7 linked regions of the Homo sapiens genome follow. The protein of the gene in region 5 purifies or fractionates together with the protein of the main gene of each other region. This does not show direct contact. Each region holds a gene or a part of one and is shown on either strand. Other genes may lie near its edges.

Region 1 (3,500 bases), on a different chromosome or scaffold from region 5:
CCTAAGATATATACTTTCTAGCTGTGTATTAATTTTACCTAAGGATCCCATTATCATATTTGGCTGCACTGCAACAGTGGCTATGACAAAACTTTAGCAAGTACTGAAATGGTGAAGACTAAATGAAACTTACCTCCAGGAGCTAAGGAACCAGGGCCAGGTCCTGTGACAGCAGCTGGCATTTGCCCTGGTGCTGGAACTCCACCCTGCATAGAAGCTTGCATCAGAGGAGGTGCGCCATTGACATGCATTCCACCCTGACCAAGCAAAAAAAACAGAGTATGTATATGCCTCTGTGGATACTCAATATACTAAGTCTACGACCTTAAAAGTCCTCTTCAAATGAACAGCCCCAAATACACTACTAAACATCCTTTTTGTATGGCATGTCTTATGCAGCATTAGATTTGTCACACACTTTAAACTCCACAGAAGCAATATACGTCATGAGCCTGGTTATATGGAACACGGTTAAGATGGAACATATTCTCAATGTAGAGATTGACAAGTCTTATCTGTGTGGCAAGGCAGCACATAACACCTACTGTTAACTTCATGATTGGGGCTGCCAATAAGAGTAAAAAAAAAAAAAAAAAAAAGCCCTAAACCCAAGAAACATAAAAGGAGACTGGGACTCTTTTAAAAAAAACAACTGCTGGTAGTCCACATTTTTAAAATTAAATTTTTTTTTTAATTTAACCAATCTTTTCTCACTCCTGTCCTTAGATATAATTCTGGTTTTGGGGGAATGTGAAATATATTTTTTTAAATGCTACATTAAAACTCGTTGAGAAAAAGAGAATGTCATCTTTTCATCTGTGCATTCCCCAAAAAACTGAGTAGTCCCTTGAATTAGAAACAGCTCAATAAATAAAGAATAAAAGCCAAGTTATATAAAAAAAATCACATATACGTTTAAGGAACACAAAACTCTACAAAAGAAAAGGAAGAGCTGTATAGGAAAGTAGTTAAGAGAAAACTGGCTGTGAGGTCAGATAAAACCAGGTTCAGAAATAGATCTGCCACTTATAATTGTGTCAATTTTTGGACCAGCTAACCTCTCTGGGCCTTAGCTTTTTTTTTCTATCTCTGAAAATGTATTTATTTATTTAGAGCAGGGGTTGGCAAACTATGACCCATGGGCCAAATCGGGCTCACTGCCTGGTTTTATAAACAAACTTTTAACGGAACACAACCACACACACTTGTTCACTTATTGCCTATGGCTGATTTCATACTACCATGGCAGAGTAGCTGTGGCAGATCCTGTGACTTGCAAAGCCAAAAATATTTACTGTCTGATCATTTACAGAAAAATGTTTGCTGGTCCCTGCCCTGTACCTCTGCCAACCTGAGAGATGAAAAATGGTAGCTTATTGTAGTTTCTATTTACATTATCTTATAACATTACATATATAAATGATAATTTATTACATTATCTTATTTTGAAGTTGAATAAATTTTTATATATTTATATTTCTCCTTTTGTGAAATATTTATGTCTATTTCCCATTTTTCTACTGGGTTATTGGAAATTTTCTTACTAATTTATAGGAGGCCTTTTAAAATTTATTATGAAAAATTACAGATATACAAATCATATAGAAAATAAAATAGCCACCCAGCTTAGGAAATAAATAAGTAAATAAAATAAACCAATGGCCTGTACGGTCTTCCCCAATTGCATCCTGTGCTCTCTTCTCCTTTGATGACCACTAAGACGTCTTCTTAATGTTTCAAAATTTTATATGAATCATTACATACTCAATATATTATTTTGCAACTCATTCCACATATTTTGGGGATTTATGCAGAAACATATATCCTACATTTCGGGAATGCATCCATATTCACTTAGTTTCATGTCCGTATGTCACTGTTTTGGAGTTGTGTTGATATTATGTATCCTAGTTCATCTTAACTGCTGTATGGAATTATGTTTTTCAAAGTCATTCATGTTGATACGTGTAGTTTATTTAACTGTTGTACAGTATTTCACTGGATGAATGTACCACACATTTTCTCCATTCTTCCACTGACGTACATTTAGGACATTTCCAATTTTTCACTCTAAGGCAATAAACATTCTTGTGAATGACTATGGGCTCTTTATTAGTCTGTTTTCCATCACATGTGTGGTAAATACTTTTTCTCAATTTGTCATGTCTTTGATACTTATTTTTTTCTTTATATAGAAATTTTTTAGTTTTCAAATGTATCAATTTTTTATGGCTTTAAGGTTTTGTGTCATGCTTTGAAAGCAAGCTTTACTTTTTTCATCAGTAAGAATGGAGATAATAAGAGTGCCAACCTCATACAATTGCTTTGAGGATTAAATGAGATAATGCATATGGAATAACGAAGTGCCAACCACAGTGCCAGGCATGCACATACACACAAAGTTAGCTTATAAGAAAAGGGCATACGGGAAGGATCTCTTTGTTTTACAAACTTGGAATCGAATCTATATTCATTCAGATGTCATGTGCTCTGCAACCTGGAAATTGCTTTTATGCCTGGAAATTGAAATTATCATCTCTGGTTCCTGACCATTCTTCTTTCAATATATTCTCCTAAAAAGAAAATGACATTCTAAGACAGATACAAAAAAATGTTAAGGGATAAAGCCCTACCAAAGACTGGGCCTGAGGGGCCTGAGGATTCTGCTGGTTCATTGACACATTGGATCCTGAGCCAGGCCCAGCACCATGGACTGGCTGAGGGTTGCCTGCAATCAGCGTTGGGATATTTGTCTGGCGATGCAGAATTTTCTAAAAAGTGAAAAGACAAACCTATGAGCTGTCTGTTTAACAAAGCAATCAGGTAGTTCCTATCCCATTCAAGGTTTACCCGACCATTTCCATAAAAGAACCAGAAGCACTCACCAGGGCAATTTCCGGATCCACAATTCTCATCACTACCTGTGCTTGCAGCAAAGCATAAGCCAGTTGAGGGTTCTGAAGTAACATGTTCCGTGCCTCCTGGGGACTATTCTGGACACAGAGCTGAGAAGATAAGCAGATTCAGGTTTAATACTTATGACTTAGAAACTGATAGTGATTTAGAGCCATTCCCCTCTGAGAAATGTAATATTCAAGAGGCTCTTTATCATTAGTTTTTGCATGGCACAAAAAAACCTTGGTCATGGCAGGCAAGAGAAGAAAGAGGCATTTCAAATACTGTGATATTATCATTTAGGAAAAAAGCCAAATTTTAATATCTACATCTGACATCTATGGGCCACAAAACTCCAGCTGGATTGTTTGGATAGCTGTGTTTGTGTACAAAAATAGAAAGCTCTTTGTACAAAATGTAAAATATACTGTGTACATACAGAATATTGAAGGTGCAAGAAATGGTGGTCTACAGACAATTTCTATTTGAGCTCAGGGAACTAATTCAAGTAACTCCTTGAAAACCTGATGTGATTTGCTTTATTCATAACCTAATGCCTCCTCCCACCTTCATTTGTTTCATCAGCTCAAACATCTGCTCTGGTG
Region 2 (3,500 bases), on a different chromosome or scaffold from region 5:
AAAAAGCACGGTAATCTACATGTTGTCGCCTGAACAGTCTTGCCTGACCCAGCCTCTGTTGTAGCTTCATCAGACTGTTCTCTTACTTCTGTCAAAATCTGACCGAAAACTTCTCACCAGGAAGTATCCTGTGATATAATTAAATAATTTTTACTGTATTGTTTTATGTTTAATGTTGTATTCTATATATGTTTTTCATGGAGATCAGTATAAGCTATTATCTATAGATGTATTGACTCACATTTTATCAAAAAAGTATGTTTTTGAGGTTAAAGTTTTATTAAGAGTATAGCACATTATATAATTGGTATCATTTTAAACAAATCTTATGAATGATTATAGAGTGGTTTTATTAAGCTAACTTTAATGTTTTTATTTTCTTATTTTAGGTATCATTGCCCAGTGCCTAAGATCTTTTATGTTCAGCTCACTGTAGGAAATAATGAATTTTTTGGGGAAGGAAAGACTCGACAAGCTGCTAGACACAATGCTGCAATGAAAGCCCTCCAAGCACTGCAGAATGAACCTATTCCAGAAAGATCTCCTCAGGTGTGGTGCTGCTGCATGTGACAGTCTGTTCTTTCTACTTTCCCAGTGAAACAAATCAGAGCATTTTATAATTAAAATAAATAATCTGTTCTGATAGGGAAGAATACTAGAGTGAAGACCTGACAGTCTTGCTTCATGTGTTCCTGCAGGGTGACTACCTTTCAGAGCTTTGGTTCTTCCCTTGAGTTCACTTCCCAGGCAACTGGGGATTTGGGGATGTATATGAGGATGAGAAATAACATTGATTTGGCTTATATTTCATACTATGTTTATTGAATATAGATTACATTGTGTGAATCTAGAATCAAGGATTTAAAGTGGAAGAGATTTTATGGATTTTTCAGTCCTCTTTTGTTTTACAAATGACATTGAGGCTGTTCTTAAGTAATCTCACTCATTCTCATGGCTTCAGCTACTTTCTTGATTGACTTCAAAATAGTATCTCTAGCTCAGGCATGTCCTATACATAGCATAGTGAGCTTCCTTTTTTTTTTGAGATGGAGCCTCGCTCTGTTGCCCAGGCTGGAATGCAGTGGCAGGATCTCAGCTCACTGCAACCTCTGCCTCCCGGGTTCAAGCGATTCTCCTGCCTCAGCCTCTTGAGTAGCTGGGACCATAGGCTCATGCTACCACGCCCAGCTAATTTTTTGTATTTTTAGCAGAGATGGGGTTTCACTGTGTTAACCAGGATGTTCTCGATCTCTTGACCTCGTGATTTGCCTGCCTCGGCCTCCTAAAATGCTGGGATTACAGGCGTGAGCCACCATGCCCGGCAGCATAGTGAGCTTCTTACTTACCCTACAGTTCAACCTCTACAGTTTTCCTTTCCCCAAACCAATTGTTTCTTTCTCCTTTGATATTTATCTTAATGGCAGACTTAGGTGTTTTTCTGCTTGTACTCTTTCATGAGAGCTCCTATCTATTTCTTGATCTGTTTTCCCACTAGATCATTCTCTCCCAGTTCTTGACAGCAAGGAATACTGTCTCTTTCTAATAGTTATAGTAAGTTCAGCATATATGAGGCCTTCCAGAAGTATGTGTTAAATAAGTGAATAAAGTAAACCAATGCCTGTGCCAGACATAGATCTCCAATTAGGATGCTCCTGGTTTGCATCCTGTACTCTTTCTGTAACTTCATCCTCATAGATCACATTAGAACACCAGTGGGGGAATTCCTGGGTGTTGGGGGTTGGGTGGGTAGAGAACTCTAAAACAAGAGTGCCAGGTTTAGGGATGTAGGCTAAACTCAAATTAGTGTATGGTTGAGTAAAAGATTTCCAAAGTCTGCATTAAATGCTTTTCCTTCAAGGAAAACAAGCTAAAAATCGAGTAACAAAAAGCCTGGCAGCAAAGCCCTTGACCGCTGTGGTTACAGGAGAATGCAGCAGATACAGTCTATATAGTTTGTTGTTTCTTCTTGTAATTTAAATAGGCCATCTTGACTGTAGAATAAAAGTAAAGTTTGTTATAATGTCAAGATTCAGTGTTATCCTATTTTTTGTGATTTAGAATGGTGAATCAGGAAAGGATGTGGATGATGACAAAGATGCAAATAAGTCTGAGATCAGCTTAGTGTTTGAAATTGCTCTGAAGCGAAATATGCCTGTCAGTTTTGAGGTATGTACTCGGTAGAGATCTTCCCATTTTTTCCCTTGCTGTGGTTATTTTAAACAAACAAATCAAATTAACTGGTGTATTAGTATCCTGCAAGAGTTAGTGTGCTTCTATATGTTCAAACCCAGTATTATGAAATGATCTAGGCCCTGGTGAAAATAGAAATCATGATGATAACACAGATTCCTTCTGATTTTTTTCTTTTCTGTATTAAGCCTTTTGTATACATGGTATTTCAATTTTTATTATAAAAGTTATTTTCTGGGTATAGATAATTTGTGGTATCCTATAAGATTTGGCATTTTAAATAGGATTAAATTAAATTTATTCAAGTTAAGATTTAGTGACATACATGTTAATATCCAATTTTTTTTTCAATTGTGTGGAGGCCAAAATATGTTTCACTTTAACCTCAACTAACAAAATCACCAAGAAGTAAGATGTAATGAAGCAACTCTTGACTTAACAGCTAGATAAATATATTGCAAATATATTCATAAAATTGTATGAAATTTCAAAAAAGAAAACTTAAAAAAATAATTATTATAATACTTCTTTTATTAAGAGGTCACTAATTTTACAACTCATGTCTGGAAAGTAGACAAGAACCAGGAAATAAGCTGAAAGAGTTGTGGAGATTCTTCCCTCACATTGTATGACATTCACCTACTAGAAAGCTCCCACATCTTACTCATTGGCAGGATCATCTGAGTTGGACTGAGAAACTGTTTGCTTTCTCTTGGACACATTCTTACAAGTTGCATTATCTCAGTTCTCGGTCCACAGCTTGTTAAAAGCAGCAAAATGAGGAAGTCAGGGAGAGAATGTACTTGAGATCCTATTGGTCCAGCAAGAAATGATACGGAAAATTTGGAAAACCTGTAAAAAGTAATTGCTTATACTAAAAAATTATTGGGATTTTTTTTAAAGGCTACAATGAGTAAGAACAGACAGTTTTATTATTCTTAGGTGTTCTTGGGAACATCAATATATTATGATGTAGGATATCTGATGTTTATAATGATGATCTAATGTGAACAATTAAAGGTTAAATATTTAGTATTGCAGATTAAACAAGGTTTAGGAACATTACATTCATAGTTGACAGGTCCATAACTCATTACTCTAGAAAGCTAGGAATTTTTTTGGCATACCTACTTACCTTTTTAAAATCGTGTCACAAGAATAAATATCCCTTTCTGTAAAACAGCTTTTGACATCCCTATCAAAAACAGCTTATTTTTATCCATTGACTGTTTTTGAGAGGCTTCCACAGGCACAGTGCCTTGTGGTTTATAGAACTACTCGTTTCTCCAGCAACTTACTCGTACATAGGA
Region 3 (4,099 bases), on a different chromosome or scaffold from region 5:
TGGTGTGCAATGACGTGATCTTGGCTCACTGCAACCTCTGCCTCCTGGGTTCAAGCAATTCTCCTGCCTTAGCATCCCGAGTAGCTGGGATTACAGGCGTCTGCCACCACGCCCAGCTAATTTTTTTTTTTTTTTTTCTGAGACGGAGTCTTGCTCTGTCACCCAGGCTGGAGTGCAATGGTGCGATCTCGGCTCACTGCAACCTCTGCCTCCCAGGTTCAAGCAATTCCTGTATCTCAGCCTCCCGAGTAGCTGGAATTACAGGCACGCGCCACCACACCCAGCTAATTTTTGGGTTTTTTGGGTTTTTTTTTTAAATGGAGTCTCGCTGTGTCACCCAGGCTGCAGTGCAGTGGTGCGATTTCAGCTCACTGCAACCTCAGCCTCCCGGGTTCATACGATTCTCTTACCTCAGCCTCCTGAGTAGCTGGGATTACAGGCATGTGCCACCATGCCCAGCTAATTTTTGTATTTTTAGTAAAGACGGAGTTTCACCATGTTGGCCAGGCTGGTCTCGAACTCCTGACCTTAGGTGATCCACCTGCCTCAGCCTCCAAAAATGCCGGCATTACAGACGTGAGCCACCGCACCTGGCCTTTTTTGGTATTTTTAGTAGAGATGGTGTTTCACCATGTTGGCCGGGATGGTCTCGATCTCCTGACCTCACGATCCACCCGCCTCAGCCTCCCAAAGTGCTGGGATTACAGGAGTGAGTCACCATGCCCGGCCCAATTTTTATATTTTTAGCAGAGATGGGATTTAACCATGTTGGCCAGGCTGGTCTTGAACTCCTGACCTCAGGTGATCTGCCTGCCTCAGCCTCCCAAAGTGCTGGGATTACAGGCATGAGCCACCGCACCCGGCTAATTTTTTTATTTTTTGTAGAGACAGGGTCTCTACAAAACTCTACCTAAACTTCTGGGCTCAAGCAATCCTCCCATCTCAGCGTCCCAAAGTGCTAGGATTACAGGCATGAGCCACTGCAGCTAGCCACCAGACCTGTATTCTAATGCTCTATTTCTTTTAGTTGGTATTCCAATTCGTTTCCAAATCTCTGGTTATCTTTCATAGTTAAAGGGCAGTCAATATGTATTTCTGGAGAATTTACAATGTGAAAGCCACCAATTTAAAACAACATAGTGAAACATAAGGATGGATAAAGATTTGGTCACTTTCCTCAAGAACTTTTGGGAAATATGTGGGATACATACAGGAAAAATGAACTAATTTTATATAGACATGCATAACAAATGTCAATCAAATGATGAAGATAGCCACTGAAACTAGATAACGGTACATTCGGGTTGTCAGGAAAGACATAAACTAGGCCTTGACCGCTGGACAGGATTGGGATGCAAAAGACAAGAATTTCAAAAGAAGCCTTTTTTAAAATACCTGCTTGGTTTTCTGCTTACACTCTAGGTAACTTCAGTAGTCAAATTCACAGAGCGAAAGTAGAATGGTAGTTGCCGGGAGTGGAAGGAGAGAGGAATGAGAAGTGAGTGTTTAATGGGCACAGAGTTTCAGTCTGGGACAATGAAAAGTTCTGGAGATGGATGATGGTGACAGCTGCAAAACGATGTAAATATACTTAATGTCACAGAGCTATATACTTAAAAATGGTTAAAATGATAAACGTTATGTGTATTTTAGCACAATAAAAGTGTTAGCTGAAATGGCAAGTTTACCTTAGTGATAAGGTCAGAGAGGTAGATTCTGCTTTCTAAGGCTATACAAAATAAGTCTCATTCTTTTGTCGAATGTCAGCCTTCGAATACTGCCACCTTAGCCTCTTCAGCTGATTTCTTTTTTCCAGGTCAAATGTCTCCAGTAATAATTTTACCTGGGCATTTTTTCAGCACCTTGTGATCCTCTGAGTGTTTCAGGATGTTTTTTCTTTTCCTTTTTTTTTTTTTTTTTTTTTGGAGGGCAGGGGGCTGGGAGGAGGAAAGACTACAACTCCTCTACAGGCTCCTTGAGAGCAGAGACCATTTCTTTACTTATTTAGTTTAACCTCCTTGGTACTCAGCAAAGAGTATGGTACAAATTAGGTTCAATAAACACCTGCGGATTGAATGAAAATACTGACAGTAAAGGCTATTAATAATGCAACCCACACGATCTCCATCACTGACAAATCCTGGCAAGTCTCAGTGACACTTTTCCTTAAGCCTCTACAGACTAGTTATTGAGGTCTGTAAACCTAAGATCGCTTTCCCCAGGATTCTTGCACAGGGGACGGGGTGACAGAAGCAACACATATTCAAAGCAATCATTTTTTCTTAATCATCTTCTAAGAGGGCCAATGAAAACGAAATGGCAAGCGTCACTGCTTCAGGAGAGAAAGAACAGATTCCATGGTGATGGGAGCTTGAGTCTGCCCATCTGAGATTCAGGCGCCAACGGGAAGGGCTGAGGGGCCACGCGGAGGAGAGGCCCAAAGCCCAGGGCCATCTTTCTCCAGGTCGGGAGGGTGGAGGTGGAAACGGTCCCTGAGCGACCCCAGAGGGCCGAGGGCGGCGCGAAGGGAGGCCCTCGGATGCTCCGGCCCGGTTCTGACAGGCCATCATCAGGGACAGACAGTTCCCCTCCCCGCCCAAGCCGGCGCAGCCCAAAAGGAGGCGCGGCCCATGCTCAGCGCACCTTTTGCCTCTCCTTCTTCTGGCTCTCGGACTCCTCCAAGGGTGCTTCCAGCTCCATAATGTCCCCCCAGAGGAGTTTCCCAGGCATTACTGGCCACCGCCGCCTCCCTCCGGGCACAGTGGCCACAACCACCTACGGGCAGCGACAGCGTGAAAGGAAGCGGGGGCAAGGCGGCCGCCCGGCCTTGGCCATGCGTCACTTCCGGGACACGCACCGCACGGCGGGGAAAAATAATCCCGGATACTCTCGGTTTAAGACCTTCCATTGCGCCGCAACCTCTCAACCAATGAGTGTGAGAGATATCAACGGGCCCGCCCTTGTTCTGAAGTGATTGGTTACTAGAGTAAAACCCTGGCCAATCTCCATAAAGGAAGCATGCACTGATTAACATAAATAGTTCGGTTTATCTTCCCCTCCCCCACTCCGAACGGGTCTCCTCGGCCTCGCAGAGCCTTTTGGGGGCTTCCCAGTACGCACTGCTAGGGCTGGGAAGCCCTTCAACGGCGGTAGACAGGGTCCGGCGCGCGCTGGGCGGGTGCGTGGGCAGGCCCATGCCGAGGCCAGTGGGCAACGCCGCGCGCCGCCTCGCCATTTGCAGCCGGAAGCTGAAGCCCTCCATCCCGCCCATTGCGGGGGAGATGTTAACGACCAACAGCTTCGCGCGAGGCCACAGGCCTGGCGTCGGTGGAGAGGGGCTTCGCGCAGTTTGGGGTGGGCCAGATGGGCCGGAGGTGTAGCCAGGAACGGACAGATGTCCGTCTCTTAAGTCTTAGGTTTTAATCGTGAAGCTGATCCCTGGTTCATTGTGATCCTTCTCACGCTGTCCATTTGACATAAGAAACCCGAGAAAGGAATGTACTTGTCTGAAGTCCCACAGTCTGTTAGTGGCACAGTCAGGACTAGAGAATTTAGCTCCTGAAGCCGAGATCAATGCTCTTTCTGCCACATCAGCCTGAGAACTTTGAGTTTTGCAGTGTTTTGGGGAAGATGCTCCCGTGAAACAATGAACAGGAAAAACCTGAAGAAGCCTCACATTTTCTGCTAGCGAGAAAAGCCAAAATGTCTTCCACAGATTATCTATTTGCAATGAATAAAAAAGGATTTAATTTTAGTGATGGAGATTAACTGCCCGTGAATCACCACCTTACACAAAACTGAAACCTTTGACAATACAAAGGGTAACTTCCTTAGTGTTTCTATACCTTTGCTTACTATCACCGAGGCTAGTTGGCTTTTCACAGCCATTTCTTCATCTCTTCATGATCCTTGCGACCCAGCTACTCTACCCAATGGAGACACAGGGCTACTCTCACAAACCACTTGATAACGTCTAGCACACCAGCCTTAAAACCTAAGCATCAAACTGTGTCCTAGCAAAATTACAAATTGTTACATGTCGTGGAGTTTGGGAATTGGTCCTGAATAGCTGGAACCACAAATGTTAAATCTGTGATTG
Region 4 (2,978 bases), on a different chromosome or scaffold from region 5:
ATTTCTTAGCTCAGAAAGGTCTAGGGAGGAGCACTGAGCGCGGGCCCTCTGATGCCGAGCCGCTGGCGGTAGCTGGTTTCTCAATGTGGGATCTTAGCTGCACTCAGTGAACTTGGAGTGGATCCCTCCCACCCCCTACTGCTAAGGTGACACCTGTTCTGAATGCCGGTTTGCTTAAATTGTTGCCTGCCCTCACTCTGAGAGAAAACAAAACTCTCCCATTTGTCCTGAGGGTCCGGGATTCCTCATGGAGCCTACTGGAGTCACCTCAGGACCAGGAGGTCCTGGTGGTGTTAGCCGCAGCCACTCTTGGCTGGAATCCCAGTGGCTCTGGGTGAGGTTTTCGGCCAGTTCAGCTGGAAGAGGGACAGGAAGGCGTGGACGAGGTATTTTTAAATCTACTTCCTAATCTCAACTTCAAAGCATGTTAAAGGGAGTTCTTTAGGGAGCTGCTGAGTGTTGGTACACACATACACACATATATATATACACCCACACACTTTAGGTTAGTCCCTTTAATAAATGGAATTATAAACTTGTCCCATAAATACCTCCACCTCAAAATAATTGCTGCACAAGCAGCGTGTTACCTCAGTGGTTAGTAAAGTCCTGTGGTCCTAATAAAACTATCCTTGGGGAACCTCGGAGTAAACTGATTTGCAGATAAGATACAATGCTAATGGTTGCAATCTGATTGCCTTAGGAGAAAACTGAAGTCATTCTCCAGCAAACATCTCCCAAGGCCAGCTGAACCCTCTTGATCTTTAGGGAATTCAGATCTTTGGGGGGGTGGGGGGCAGTAGCATCAGGCTGTGGGCCTCTGCTTGGCCAACTTCCGACCACACAAAAAGTTTTTCTATGGACCTTGTAAATCATCAACCCCTCCTTGGTCTTTTCCAGTTCTCAGACTCACTAGAATCAGAAACACCTCTATCCAAAAATCTACAACCCTGGACACAAAGAAGCCGAGCTGGAGGGGTTGGGGGACGACGAGAGAACCCTGTGTTAGGTAAAAGCTGGAACTCATCTCTTTTCCGAGCCACCTGGTCCTCAGTTTCCCGTATTATGAATGTTACAAAGATGAGCTGGCTCTTAGTCCTGGCCGAGGACACCACCTGTCCTGGCAACTACAGGTGCCATTTCCTTGCCGCTTCCGAAAGCCCAAGTTATCTTTAAGGGATGTCAGCTTTGCAAAACCCGCTTCAGTAGAAACAAGAGTTAGCACAACCATTAACTGCTTGAACACCCTCGTTGGACTTGTTCCTAAAATCATAACCGAAGGCAGACGGCTTCCTTCGTGGACTGCCAGAGGCCCGGCCTCTCCCTGCCCTTGAGCTCAGGTGAGGAACAGGTACCGGAGAGCAAGCGCAAGGGAAAGGAGGGTGCTCCGGGCAGGAATGGCCCTTGGCAGACAGAGCGTGGGCCCTTGGATTCCTGTTCCTGAAGCGGGATGGAACTGCCGGCCGAACTGGAGCTCAACTCGCAAGCTTCAGTCCCGGCCAAGTAGGCCCTTGCTCTCAAATGCGCCCGTATCTCCTCTCTCTGGGACCCTCTCGGTTTCCAGAACAGCTGACGTTTGCGGCTCCTGCAGCGTGCAAGCGCGGGTCCCGATGCGAGAAGGGCCAGTCTGGGGAGGGGTCATTTTAGAGACTAGACCGCCCACTAATCAGCCACTGTTCACACCTGGGCGAGTGGGGCCCAAGCTCGAATTCCTAGTGCAGCAAACGGTCTAGCGTGCGTGCGTGCGTGTGGGGTGGGTGGGGGGAGGGCCTCAAACTTCACCTCTGGACTGGCCTTGGAGGGCTGGATGTGGGCGGGGGAGGAAGAGCCGCAGGGGTCCAGGAAAGTCGCGTTTCTGGATTGACAGAAACCTGAAGAATGGCCAGGCCCAGAGTCCACTGCCAAGGACATGTTTGTAATCAATGCCTCTGTTCGCGGGCTAATCTTTCATCGCAAAGCCGCGATGGAGGGGAAAGATACGGAAGGGCTGGGGTTGGGGGCTGGCTTCTGCGAGCATCCTTGGGGCCGGCCAATATGGAATACACAAAAGGGAGAAACGGATTCTTAAAAATCCCAGTCAACAGGTTCGGATTTTTCGGCAGACGTGCAAAGTTCAGATACAAAGATCACTGTAACTGTCAGAGAGGTAAGGACCTCTGATACAATGGATTTAAGAGGTTTTTTACTCCAACAGTCAGGGCAAGGGAAAGAGAAAACCGTGCTTCTCTTGGAATCTCTTCCAACAAGGGGGTTTCCTCCAGTCCCCTCCAGATGCGTTGACCGCGCTGGGAAACCGAGTCCAGGGCCAGGATTTGTTTTTCCAAAGCCGCGCGACCCCAGCAGGGCTTCAGATCCGAGTTCCCAGTTGCTCTTCAGTCTCCCCCGCGTTCTTCCAAACGCTATCAGGAGCCACGCAGGTTACCGCACCACCGGTCATTTCCCTGTTTCTTCTAAAAGTTCTCCAGCCAAATTTCAGCAATTTATTTAAAAAGGCACCAGGTCACCGCGACCTTCGGGCGGCTCCTCAGGCCTCATGGGGTAGTTTGGTCAGGATCTGCGCGCCCCTCGACGTGATCAGAACCGTGTGCTCGAACTGCGCCGACCTGTAACACAGCACCCAGCCGTCAGAACGCGCACGCAAGCTCCGGCCGGGCCACAAGCGCGCCGTCGGACCAATCTTCCTTTCCCATACAATTTAAAAGCAACAGAGCAGAAAGCAAACACCTTTGATTGTCTAGGGAGACCACAGTCCATGCATCCTCCAGGACTTTAAATTCAGGGGATCCCTCCGTGATGATTGGCTCTGTAAGAGGAAAAATATTTACTGCAGTGACCTCATCAGATTCTTGTTAAACATTGTTTCCGGCTGATTATTAAAAAAGAGAAGTTTCTCCTCCCTCCCCTCAAGTGCTTCCCCCACAGGCTCATGTTGTCATCTTGCAAGGGTTGATAATTGATGTTGCTTACATAGTATACTA
Region 5 (3,500 bases):
GGATTACAGGTGTGAACCACCGCGCCCAGCCAACAATTTTTAATAGAGGGCAGGGACTTCATAGACATCGGACCCACCTGATCTCGACAGAAGAAAGGACCAGGCTGAGAACTGCAGATATGACACAGAGAATCTTCTAGGTAGGGGTCAATCTGAACCTGCACAAAGGCAAAATAAGATGATGAAGTGGCTCTTCTTACCAGGAGGCTCGATAGGCGATAGAAGAAGGGCACATTATTGGCCACACACAGGAATGCGGGATATTGGAATGCAGGATATTTGCCTGTTTTAAAGGAGGCTTGGAGAGAATTATGGGCCTGAAGTACAGAAAGGAGTTCTAGAGGACAGACTCATACACCATGCACAGTCAGGCTGGATGCCTCTGGGATTCAGGCAACCACACACCTTAATGCCTGGTCTTCTAGGCAAACTGTACCTCAGCCCTCTATCAATTAGCAGTATAGGCAAGTGTTCGGAGGATTCCCAAAAGGTTGGAAAATAGGAAGTCAGGCTACTGAGCAATGCCAAAGAAATACCACAGTGAGGGAAGGCACCCTACACACTGAAGAGGCTCAACAGTCCCAGTTCCCTTCCTCCTGGGCGTACAAAGACCAAGCCCACTCCCAAACCCTAACCTCAATGTTAATTCTCAGGAATTTGGCTCACTTCCCTAAACACACCCAGCACAAACAGCTTCAGGTCTCAGGCCTGCCCTGGGTAGTAACTGCCCAAACCCCTCTCATATACCCCAGAGTAAGGGCATAAACCAGCCAACTCACCTTCTTTGTGAACTTGGTGGTTTTGATCTCCACAAAAGCAGCGCTGACTGCTTTCAGGTAACTCCGTTGGTTATTGAAAGTCACACGACCAGAACCTAGGACAACAGACACAAGCTTCCCTTCTAACCAAATTCTCCCAAATGCTACTTTTTTTTTTTTTTTTTTTTTTTTTGAGATGGAGTCTCGCTCTTTCGCCCAGGCTGGTGTGCAGTGGCGCAATCTCTGCTCACTGCAAGCTCTGCCTCCCGGTTTCACGCCATTCTCCTGCCTCAGCCTCCCGAGTAGCTGGGACTACAGGCATCTGCCACCACACCCAGCTAATTTTTTGTATTTTTAGTAGAGATCGGGTTTCACCATTAGCCAGCATGGTCTTGATCTCCTGACCTTGTGACCCGCCCGCCTCAGCCTCCCAAAGTGCTGGGATTACAGGCGTGAGCCACCGAGCCTGCCCTAATGCTACTCTTTTAAAATGCAGGAAACCCTTTACGATACTAGTGCTGTCCGACAGAAATATAATGTGAGCTACTATGTAACTTTATTTATTTTTTGAGACAGGGTCTCCCTCTGTCACTCAGGCTGGAGTGTAATGGCGTGATCTCAGCTCACTGCAACCTCTGCATCCCAGGCTCAAACAATCTCCTGCCTCAGCCTCCCAAGTAGCTGGGACTACAAGCATGAGCCACCATGCCTGGCTAATTTTTGTATTTTTTTGTAGAGACAGGGTTTCACCATATTGTCCAGGCTGGTCTTGAACTCCTGGACTCAAACGATCTGCCCCACCTCGGCCTCCCAAAGTGCCAGGATTATAGGTATAAGCCATCATGGTCAGCCCTTATGTAACTTTAAATTTTCTAGTAGTCACACTGAAATTTTAAAACAGTGGTGACATTAATTTTAATAATATATTTTATTGGCCGGGCACGGTGGCTCACACCTGTAAACCCAGTGCTTTGGGAGGCCAAGGTGGGCGGATCATGAGGTCAAGAGATGGAGACCATCCTGGCTAACATGGTGAAACCCCGTCTCTACTAAAAATACAAAAATTAGCTGAGCGTGGTGGCGCACACCTGTAGTCCCAGCTACTCAGGAGGCTGAGGCAGGAGAATCACTTGAACCCAGGAGGCAGAGGTTGCAGTGAGCTGAGATAGCACCACTGCACTCCAGCACGGCAACAGAGTGAGACTCCATCTCAAAAAAAAAATTTTATTTAACCCTATATGTTAATAATATTATTTCCAAATGTGACAACAGCTGTGTTTCCAAAACTCAATGGGGCCACATTTAGCTGGTAGCTACCATATTCGTACCATATTTGACAGTGGAGATCATGTTAGCGTGAACCATTCAGGAATGGGGGAAGAATTTGCAGATCAAGATGGGAAGGAAAGATAAGGGACTCCTTCAGTGCAGGTAGAGCATAGGTTAAGGTTAAAGGATTCAGAGTGGAAGCCAAGATGCAGATAGAACACTTGTCTGAAGGGTAAGCCCAGCAGTTGAACTGAACCTCTCCTAGCCCTTAGGCACTCTGGAGACCTATTAAGAGAGCTGGAAGAAGCCCCATCCTGCCAAGTTCCTCCTCCGCTCCTGGGGCTTCTGAAGTCCCTGTTCTCAATCTGCTGCACAGTATTGGTGAGTACATGGTGCTCCTTCCTGACCAGATTCAGTGTGGGTGTGAAGACTAAGCATTTGGGGAGGTGGGTTAGCCACATGTTAATCACAGAGGTCAGGCTCTGCTCCACCTCCATACCTCATCATTGACATTTTGCCAGGACTGGCGAATTGACCTCCTTTCTCAGAGGAGCTGATCAAAACCTAGTGGTTAGGCCCACAGACTTCTGAGTTAGGAAAGCACAGGCCACACTCTGTTGCCTGACTCACTCAGAAAGTCCTCCTCCAGCCTGACCTGGTCTCTGACCTTAGACAATGCCAGAGCTTTTCAAGAACTTTTAATAAAAAACTCCAGGCAAGTTCAGAGAATTGCAGCCTTTTCATGAAATAGTACCTGTTGTCTGTTCCAAACTGGTTTCGCTGTGAACTCTGAGCTTCCAACAAAGTTCCTACCTCACTCTCACTTCTTATCACCTCCTGTAGTCTCCAATAGCTTTTTCTCCCACTGCGTGGGAGATGGTGGGTAGAGGGCTAGATACAGAAGGGCCAGTACTCGTGACTTGTCTAGAAAAAGATATTATGGTGCTGGTATATGCTGATCTGCAGACCTGGGTCAGGCCTCTCTCCTCACTCCCATGGGGAAGTATCACAATCTTGGTCTACTCCCAGGGGCCAACCAAGCTTTCGCACACAGAAGTGGGACACTTACCAATGGGATACTTGTGCTTATCTGTGTCAATCCCGGCATACACCACTCCACCAAATAGGTCGTTCAAGATGGCTGCCAGGGCCTCAGCATTTAGCATTCCATGCAGAGCACCGACAAACACCGTCCTGCTGGGGTCAAGCCTCTGAGATGGGCTCCGGACAAAGTTACTGTCGGCTAATACCCAGGGGATCACCTGCACCTGAAAACCACCCAAAGGTGTATCAGCCCTGGCAGAGAGCCACAGAGAGAGAGGTGCTTGCACGGCAAGGTACGTGCTCTGGAGATACTGAAGCTAAGCTAACGCCCTTACAGGGGTGAAAAGGTGCTGTTGCCCAATCTCAGGCACACAGGCGTCCAATAAACCACCCTGACTCCACCCCAACTGGAGTTGAATTTTACTGAGT
Region 6 (3,500 bases), on a different chromosome or scaffold from region 5:
GTGTATCATCCTTGCCAGTCCCCAAATCATGACAAGCCTAAGCAAGGTGAAAGCACTGCTCATTCCCCTCTGTAATCACCTCAAACGTGCAGCCTTTTTCCCTGCCAAAGTATTAGGAATAACAATGCAGCCGCACCTGGCATGCCTGCTGCCAGACCTTGTCCAAATGCAAGGGCAGAATTCACTGCTGCAGCTGCCACAAGGGGATCCGTTTGCTGTCCCTGCTGGTTCTGGTTTGGGGTCAAAGGACGTTGGCTGGCTCCTCCACGGAGAACCTGGGAAAGGAAGACAGAAATAACTCAACCACTTTCTTTTCATTGGAGAAGACCTACCCTATGCTCAGGTTGGGTCAACTTTTAAAACTTAATTGTAAATTGTTTCCCTATAATGGTTTTTATATGTCACAGCTGTTAGCGTATAAATTCAATTAATAACATTTCATAGAGTGGAATTTCATTCTACCATTCTTACTTTAAACACATTATCTCTATAAGCAGCAAAAAGCACACAAAAGTGATGATTCATTCATTCAAACATTTTATCTCATCTGCCTCATAAAGTTCTTGTGACAATTAAGTTAAAAGATGAATTTGGAATATCTGGCATCAGCAAGTGGTAGTGTTATCAAATATTTAATGCCTACCATGTGGCAAATGGGCAAGTGAGACAGAGCAATGAACAAGACCGACAAAGCCCCTGTCCTCATGGAGCTTTTATTTTAACGAATGAGACAGACAATAAACCATACTATATAATGTCAGTGCTCTGACAAAAAGTGGGTGAAGAAAAAAAAAGAGTGTAACAGGCCAGGCGTGGTGGCTCACGCCTGTAATCCTAGCACTTTGGGAGGCCGAGGCAGGTGGATTATCAGAGGTCAGGAGTTCGAGACCAGCCTGGCCAACATGGCAAAACCCCGTCTCTACTAAAACTACAAAAATTAGCCAGGCGTGGCAGCAGGTGCCTATAATCCCAGCTACGAGAGAGGATGAGGCAGGAGAATCACTTGAACCTGGGAGGCGGAGGTTGCAGTGAGCTGAGATCGAGACACTTCGCTCCAGCCTGGGAAAAAGAGCAAAACTCCATTTCAAAACACACACACAAAAAAAAAAAAAAAAAAAAGAAAAAAAAAGAGTATTAATGGGGGTTGGGAGGGGTTCCAGACAAGATGAACAGGGGTAATTTACCCACACATTTAAAGTCAACTGAGTCTCACATGCACACAAAAGATGGAATGAGAATATTTCCTCTTTAACACTAATATATTTATCAAGGTCCACATGGCCCCAAATGAGTTCACCAGATTCGATTTGGTAGGGCTCTCACCTGACTATTTCTATTTCCCTCTCAGAAATTCCACAAACATACGCATTAGTCAAGTTCAGTGCAGAATACCAGTTATGCCACTCTGATAAAGGATCTACTTTTTTTTTTTTGGTGGGCGGCGGGTGGCGCGGAGTGCAGGGAAGAGACAGGGCCATGCTCTGCTGCTCAGGCTGGAGTGTAGTGTGGCACAGTCTCAGCTCACTGTAACCCCTGCATCCCAGGCTGAAGAGATGCTCCCACCTCTCCTGAGTAGCTGGTACTACAGGTATGCACCACCACACCTGGCTAATTTTTCTATTTTTTGTAGAGACAGGGTCTCACCATGTTGTTCAGGCTAATCTCTAACTCCTGGGCACAAGCAATCCACCTGCCTTGGCCTGCCAAAGTGTTGGGATTACAAGTGTGAAGCCACTGAGCCCAGTCAAGGATCTACTTTTTATTAATGAAACACAGACATCAAAATGCTAGCAATCATTATTATTCTGAATGATGTGAAGAATCTATCTCACAAGATCTACACACTCCAGCAAGCAAAAATGCAAAACCCACAAACCAAGGCTAAAATTACTACAGTTCCTAACAATGTGTTTTGTCATATTGTCAAGTGTACAGTTCTTATCAGATCACTTTCAATTTCACTGTGTTATTTATAAAAGTTAGACATATGGTCAAGAAAATGGGTACAAATTATTCTTGGTACCAGTGGTAAAAAAAAAATGTAAAAAGAGAAGCAACACTAATAACCAATTAAATATTTGTTAAGTGAGTATAAGGTGACCAACACTGTCCACACTGGCAAGAAGGGATGTGTGGACACTTAATTTGCCCAATCTTTTACTTCTATATCAGTAATAAGTAAGAATTAACAAATGATCTTGCAGATTTGCTGGAAATATCTCAAATAATGTGTTTAAGCCACACTGCCTGATACCCAGGAGATCATCAATAACCAATAGCAAATCACTATTATCAAGATATTATATAATTTGTTTCTGACCTAAAGAACCTAACCAACTTTGTAAGAGAAAGTGTGTTTCAAACTACGTAGATAGAAGAGTCGGGGGGCTGTACAGGTGAGTTTTACCAAATACTTAGAATTTACATACCCAATAACTCAAAAGAGATCTCACTCTAGGATAAGTAAATAGCAAGCATTTTTGCCAAATACTTAGAATTTACATACCCAATAACTCAGAAGAGATCTCACTCTAGGATAAGTAAATAGCAAGCACAGAAATATGGCAAATGCTAATAGTTCAAAATTGCTGAAGATTTTAAAAAACAATGAAAGCATTGCTTTCACAGAATATAAAGAAGTAGGTTTATGTTTGATTAGGTGTTCTGTGAAAGGGCAGGTGTGGTAGAGTGGACAAGGTACCTAAAGAGGTAGTCTAAGACTATTGATGAGTCTTGTAATAAGGAAGGAAAACAGTGTTAGCTTTTTGTCCACTCTCTAGAAATCTGTCCAGTACCCCTAACTACAAATAAAAGTCCTTCAGTTATCTGCCAAAATTCATATATTTTCATTTCATCAATAGCTGTCAAATCCATGATTTTATGGAAACAAAATATACAGTTTCACAAGTAACATTTTAAAGTCTAATAAATCACAAAATGACTGAATTTATAAAAACTATCCTAGAACAGTCAGCTTGACTAGAACGCAACATATACTTTCTGATAAAATACAAGGGCCCAAAAGGCCAACAGCAAAGTTTAAAAAGAACCTCTCATTTTAATTACTATGACAAGGCAGTTTACCAAAAAAATCATATTTTCCTCAAATACTTAAAATCAGAAACTGGCACCCAAAAAAAAGGAACTAAAACAATGGCTGCTAATTAAAAACTAATGCTAAAAACTTCTTAGTAGGGTTTGACAGAACCTGTAGGGAATGACAGAAAACTGAAAAGTTAATGATTATTATGTCCATTTTATAACAAAAATATATGCATTTAGAGAAGCCATCCAACTTGCCCTAGTTGTAAGCTAGTTAACGGCAGAAGAAACACAAGATCTCAGATTTTCTTTAAGTCAAGACATCACAATATGGTCAGAAGAAAAGTTGTCAAGACAGAGGCTTATGTTCAAATCTTAACAACTTTGTATTTGTGTGACCCTGGGCACACAAATTGTATTTCCTCAATCGATTTCCTCTCAATTATGAAATTCTATTT
Region 7 (3,500 bases), on a different chromosome or scaffold from region 5:
CTCTCCTAAGCCCAGGGGTGAAAACTGGCTTCAGGACTCCAGAGGAGCAGGCTGAGAAATCTCATTTGCATGAACCTGCCCCAAGCCTAGGAAGATGGGCGTGTCTCGCACAGGCAGACAGATAATTACCCAAAGCCAACACCAGCAAGGGGAATAATACCGCTAACCAGCTCACTTCCTAATAGCCCTATCGGTGACAATCTACTGCATTGTCTTATGAAAACCTGCTGCCTGTTCCTAGGCAACCCGATCAACGGAAATCTCAGGTTTATACAATTTTCATTTAGGGAACATAAAGGTTAACTGACTGTAATGGGAGTGTTTTAAACAAACCCACCTACTCTTCCTCTCACTGAACAGGGCTGACAGCTCTGTTTAATTCTGCTCTGTCTTTGCTGCTGGTGGTTTGGGCAGCAATGACTGTCTGAGTGCCAACCACCTGCTGGGTCAACGGTGAGTGTTCCCCAAGGCCAGGGGCCATGGCGCATACACTCTCCAGGGGACCCTGGCCTGTCCTGGGCATCTGAATGACAGGGGAAGGCAGCAGGTAACAGTTAACAGCAGGGAACCTGGCCTGCCTGCCCTGAAGGCCTCTTGAAAGACTTCTCAGGACCAGGAAGCCTGTCCAGTCCCCTCCACCCCCGAGACTCAGCCACTTAATTCAATGACGCAGATGCGGAGGAACTCAACACGCCAGGCAAGTGCTAGGCTTTGGGGACCCAAAGATAAATAAGGAAAGCCTCCACCTCTCTGAGAGCTCTCATTGTATTGAAAAAGAAGAGGCTCTGACTGTCTTGTTCTCCTAAGATGAATGCAAGTACTCACACATCAACCTGCCCCTCGCTGCTTCTGCACTTGTTAGCCTCTCGAGCGTCTTGAGTTAGCCCACATCGGGTCACCTTCCCCTGCTGTCCTCCCCCAGGCCCTGCATAAGCCAGAGAGCTTGGCATGAACAACCCGGGTGACAGTCAGAACCCAAAAAGGGTAAAAAGTGGTCTATCTTTTCGGTTCTAGTCATGTACTTAGGCTATCTGGTCACATGCTCTGTTCCAGGTATCTACTGCTGAGCAACAAACTGCCCCCAAACTTAGTGGCTTTGAGCAACAATTTAATCATCCTTCCTCAGGGTTCTGTGGGGTGACCGGCTCAGCTGGGCTCTTGCTGGTGGTCTCATGGCGCTGTGGTCAGGTGGTGACTGGGGCTGAGGCCAGAGGAGGCCTCAACGAGGCTGGAGGCCCAAGATGGCTCCTCGCTCACATGGCAGGCAGCCACACTGGTTTGGCTGGGCCTGCTGATGGGGCGTCCACCATGGCTTCTCCATGGCGCCTGGTCTTGTCACAATATGGTGGCTAAGTCCCAAGAGGAAGTGTCCCAAGCACAAGCATTCCAACAGACTCAGGCAGAAGCTGCAAGGCTTCTTCTAACCTAGCCTTGGGACTCACAGTGTTCCCTCCCACACATTCTACTGGTGACACTGGGCCAGCCTAGAGTCCGTGTGGGAGGGGGCTCTAGGGATAATCTTTGGAGACCAACAACCACATGTGGTCGGTGAAGGGCAGTGAGCTGACAGGGCAGCAGGAGGCACTCCTCACACTCTGGCTTTTGGCTGGCTGGGTCCTTGGAGCAGTGGGCACCTAGGGCTGCTCTCACCACAGGGCAGAGGGCAGGGCACGGGGGCTCCCTTCCCACTGTAGCCCCACACAGGCCTGCCTGGCTCCCCATGGTCCTCTAAAACAAAACAAATGTGGTGCTCATGGGGACCAGGCCTCTTGCTGCAGGTATTTTGGCCCCACCTCCTAAGACTTCCCCTTGAGGAAGGCCCACCTCCCAGTCTCAGTCCTTGAGTCTCCTGCACCAACGGCTTCTCACAGTGGCTGCTGCTACTGCTGCTACTGTTTCAAATAGCAACTGACCAGAGCAGTCTATTCAAGGGGCAAGAAATGCAGTGAGATGTTCCATCTGACTGAGCACTTGTAAGAAGCCTCAGAGGCCACTGATGACCAACTGCTTATACCAGAAGGACCAGGTCTCTGTTTTCAAGGTGCACAGCTGGCAATGCCACAAAACACTCCCAATACCAGGGATGTGCCAACACCCCCCACCCCAACAAAATTGATGGGATTTGTTCTGAAATTTTCTTCTCCCAATATGCTGCTTTGTTCGACAAACTGGCCTTAGAAGAGAGGGTGTGGCTTCCTCATAGTCCCCATGGTAATGGGTTCAGAATAATGACCTAGCCCCTGGACACCTAGCCCCTGGACACCTAGGGCAGCAGCATGTTCCTTTAGAGAACAAAACGAAGGCCTGATGGGAGTGTGGCCCCTGTGGTCGCTAACACTCTTGTCCTTGCTGCCCACTGGGTTGGGTGCCTCCTCCCATCAGCATCCACAGCAACTCAGCAAGGAGGTTTGCAGTTTCTAACTCCTTACTCAGGAATCATTTCAAATTTACAGAAAAGTTGCAAGGAGAGTATCCTTTACCAGAATTCACCTACTGCTAACATTTTGTTACTTTTGCCTTATCATTTGCACACACTCCTGAGCCCTCTATATGTAGAATTTTTTTTTTTTTTAGACGGAGTCTTGCTGTGTCGCTCAGGCTGGAGTGCAGTGGCGTGACCTCAGCTCACTGCAACCTCCGCCTCCCGGGTTCAAGTGATTCTCCTGCCTCAGTCTCCCGAGTAGCTGGGACTATAGGTGCACGCCACCACGCCCTGCTAATTTTTGTATTTTTAGTAGAGACAGGGGTTTCACCACATTGGCCAGGCTGGTCTCGAACTCCTGACCTCGTGATCTTCCCGCCTCAGCCTCCCGAAGTGCTGGGATTACAGACGTGAGCCACTGCACCTGGCCAGGATTTTTTTTTCCATTTGAGAGTAAGTTGGTATGCGTTTCATAAACATGAGGGCATTTTCTTACGTAATCATAGCACAGTTATCAGTCTCAGTACGTTTAACATTAATGCAATACTTTACCTTCCATACGCTTGTTTTGCCAGCGGACCCGATAATGACCTTTATAGCTATATATCCATCCCACGGAGCAGGAAACTGAGGCTCAGACTCAGACATCTAACCTGTGGTCCAGACCCAGTACCTGTGTGCAGGGCTGGGATGTTAATCCCGATCTGCCTATAGCCCCAGCCCAAGCCAGGAGAGTGGGTGCTGTGGCCCTGCGTTACACCCTCTCCCTAGCGGGGAATGCTTAGCACTGGCTTTCAGAGGAGGTGCTGGAGCTTCTGCAAGAACAGCTTCCCTGCAGCTACTATGAGTGGCCACTCCTCCCCAGTGGATCCGAAGCCCTTGCAAAGGTAAGCTCACTGCCCTGGCATCTTTGGGGATGGTGGCTGGCAGTCTGAGGAGTATGCCAAGCTTTGGGAAGTAAAGGGCTTTTGTTTTTCCCTGGTCTCTGTACAAAAGAACCCAGTCAGCACGCGGCCTTGGGGCCCAGAGGGAAATCCAAGCCCTGGACCTGTGGCCTTGATGTACCATCCAGGACAAG

The links.
Region 1: the proteins of CPEB1 (region 5) and CSTF2 purify together in Homo sapiens (affinity purification with mass spectrometry; 2 studies listed by BioGRID and IntAct, with this or other methods). This does not show direct contact.
Region 2: the proteins of CPEB1 (region 5) and STAU2 purify together in Homo sapiens (affinity purification with mass spectrometry; one large-scale study listed by BioGRID and IntAct). This does not show direct contact.
Region 3: the proteins of CPEB1 (region 5) and DDX50 purify together in Homo sapiens (affinity purification with mass spectrometry; one large-scale study listed by BioGRID and IntAct). This does not show direct contact.
Region 4: the proteins of CPEB1 (region 5) and METAP1D purify together in Homo sapiens (affinity purification with mass spectrometry; 2 studies listed by BioGRID and IntAct, with this or other methods). This does not show direct contact.
Region 6: the proteins of CPEB1 (region 5) and PUM1 purify together in Homo sapiens (affinity purification with mass spectrometry; one large-scale study listed by BioGRID and IntAct). This does not show direct contact.
Region 7: the proteins of CPEB1 (region 5) and MSI2 purify together in Homo sapiens (affinity purification with mass spectrometry; one large-scale study listed by BioGRID and IntAct). This does not show direct contact.

The regions. Positions count from the first base shown.
Region 1 is NC_000023.11:100,823,391-100,826,890, reverse strand, and holds part of CSTF2 (cleavage stimulation factor subunit 2), read right to left. Parts: coding exon 3,463-3,500; intron 3,006-3,462; coding exon 2,886-3,005; intron 2,772-2,885; coding exon 2,634-2,771; intron 258-2,633; coding exon 134-257; intron 1-133. UniProt on the Homo sapiens protein: One of the multiple factors required for polyadenylation and 3'-end cleavage of mammalian pre-mRNAs. This subunit is directly involved in the binding to pre-mRNAs.
Region 2 is NC_000008.11:73,614,341-73,617,840, reverse strand, and holds part of STAU2 (double-stranded RNA-binding protein Staufen homolog 2), read left to right. Parts: intron 1-389; coding exon 390-549; intron 550-2,058; coding exon 2,059-2,166; intron 2,167-3,500. UniProt on the Homo sapiens protein: RNA-binding protein required for the microtubule-dependent transport of neuronal RNA from the cell body to the dendrite.
Region 3 is NC_000010.11:68,900,016-68,904,114, reverse strand, and holds the start of DDX50 (ATP-dependent RNA helicase DDX50), read right to left. Parts: upstream 2,801-4,099; 5' UTR 2,731-2,800; coding exon 2,644-2,730; intron 2,060-2,643; exon of another isoform or gene 1,689-2,059; intron 1-1,688. UniProt on the Homo sapiens protein: ATP-dependent RNA helicase that may play a role in various aspects of RNA metabolism including pre-mRNA splicing or ribosomal RNA production.
Region 4 is NC_000002.12:172,079,953-172,082,930, reverse strand, and holds the end of METAP1D (methionine aminopeptidase 1D, mitochondrial isoform 1 precursor), read right to left. Parts: intron 2,804-2,978; coding exon 2,725-2,803; intron 2,604-2,724; coding exon 2,525-2,603; 3' UTR 501-2,524; downstream 1-500. UniProt on the Homo sapiens protein: Removes the N-terminal methionine from nascent proteins. The N-terminal methionine is often cleaved when the second residue in the primary sequence is small and uncharged (Met-Ala-, Cys, Gly, Pro, Ser, Thr, or Val).
Region 5 is NC_000015.10:82,546,364-82,549,863, forward strand, and holds part of CPEB1 (cytoplasmic polyadenylation element-binding protein 1), read right to left. Parts: intron 3,296-3,500; coding exon 3,097-3,295; intron 875-3,096; coding exon 780-874; intron 159-779; coding exon 78-158; intron 1-77.
Region 6 is NC_000001.11:30,968,218-30,971,717, forward strand, and holds part of PUM1 (pumilio homolog 1), read right to left. Parts: intron 276-3,500; coding exon 137-275; intron 21-136; exon of another isoform or gene 1-20. UniProt on the Homo sapiens protein: Sequence-specific RNA-binding protein that acts as a post-transcriptional repressor by binding the 3'-UTR of mRNA targets.
Region 7 is NC_000017.11:57,609,523-57,613,022, reverse strand, and holds part of MSI2 (RNA-binding protein Musashi homolog 2), read right to left. Parts: intron 1-3,500.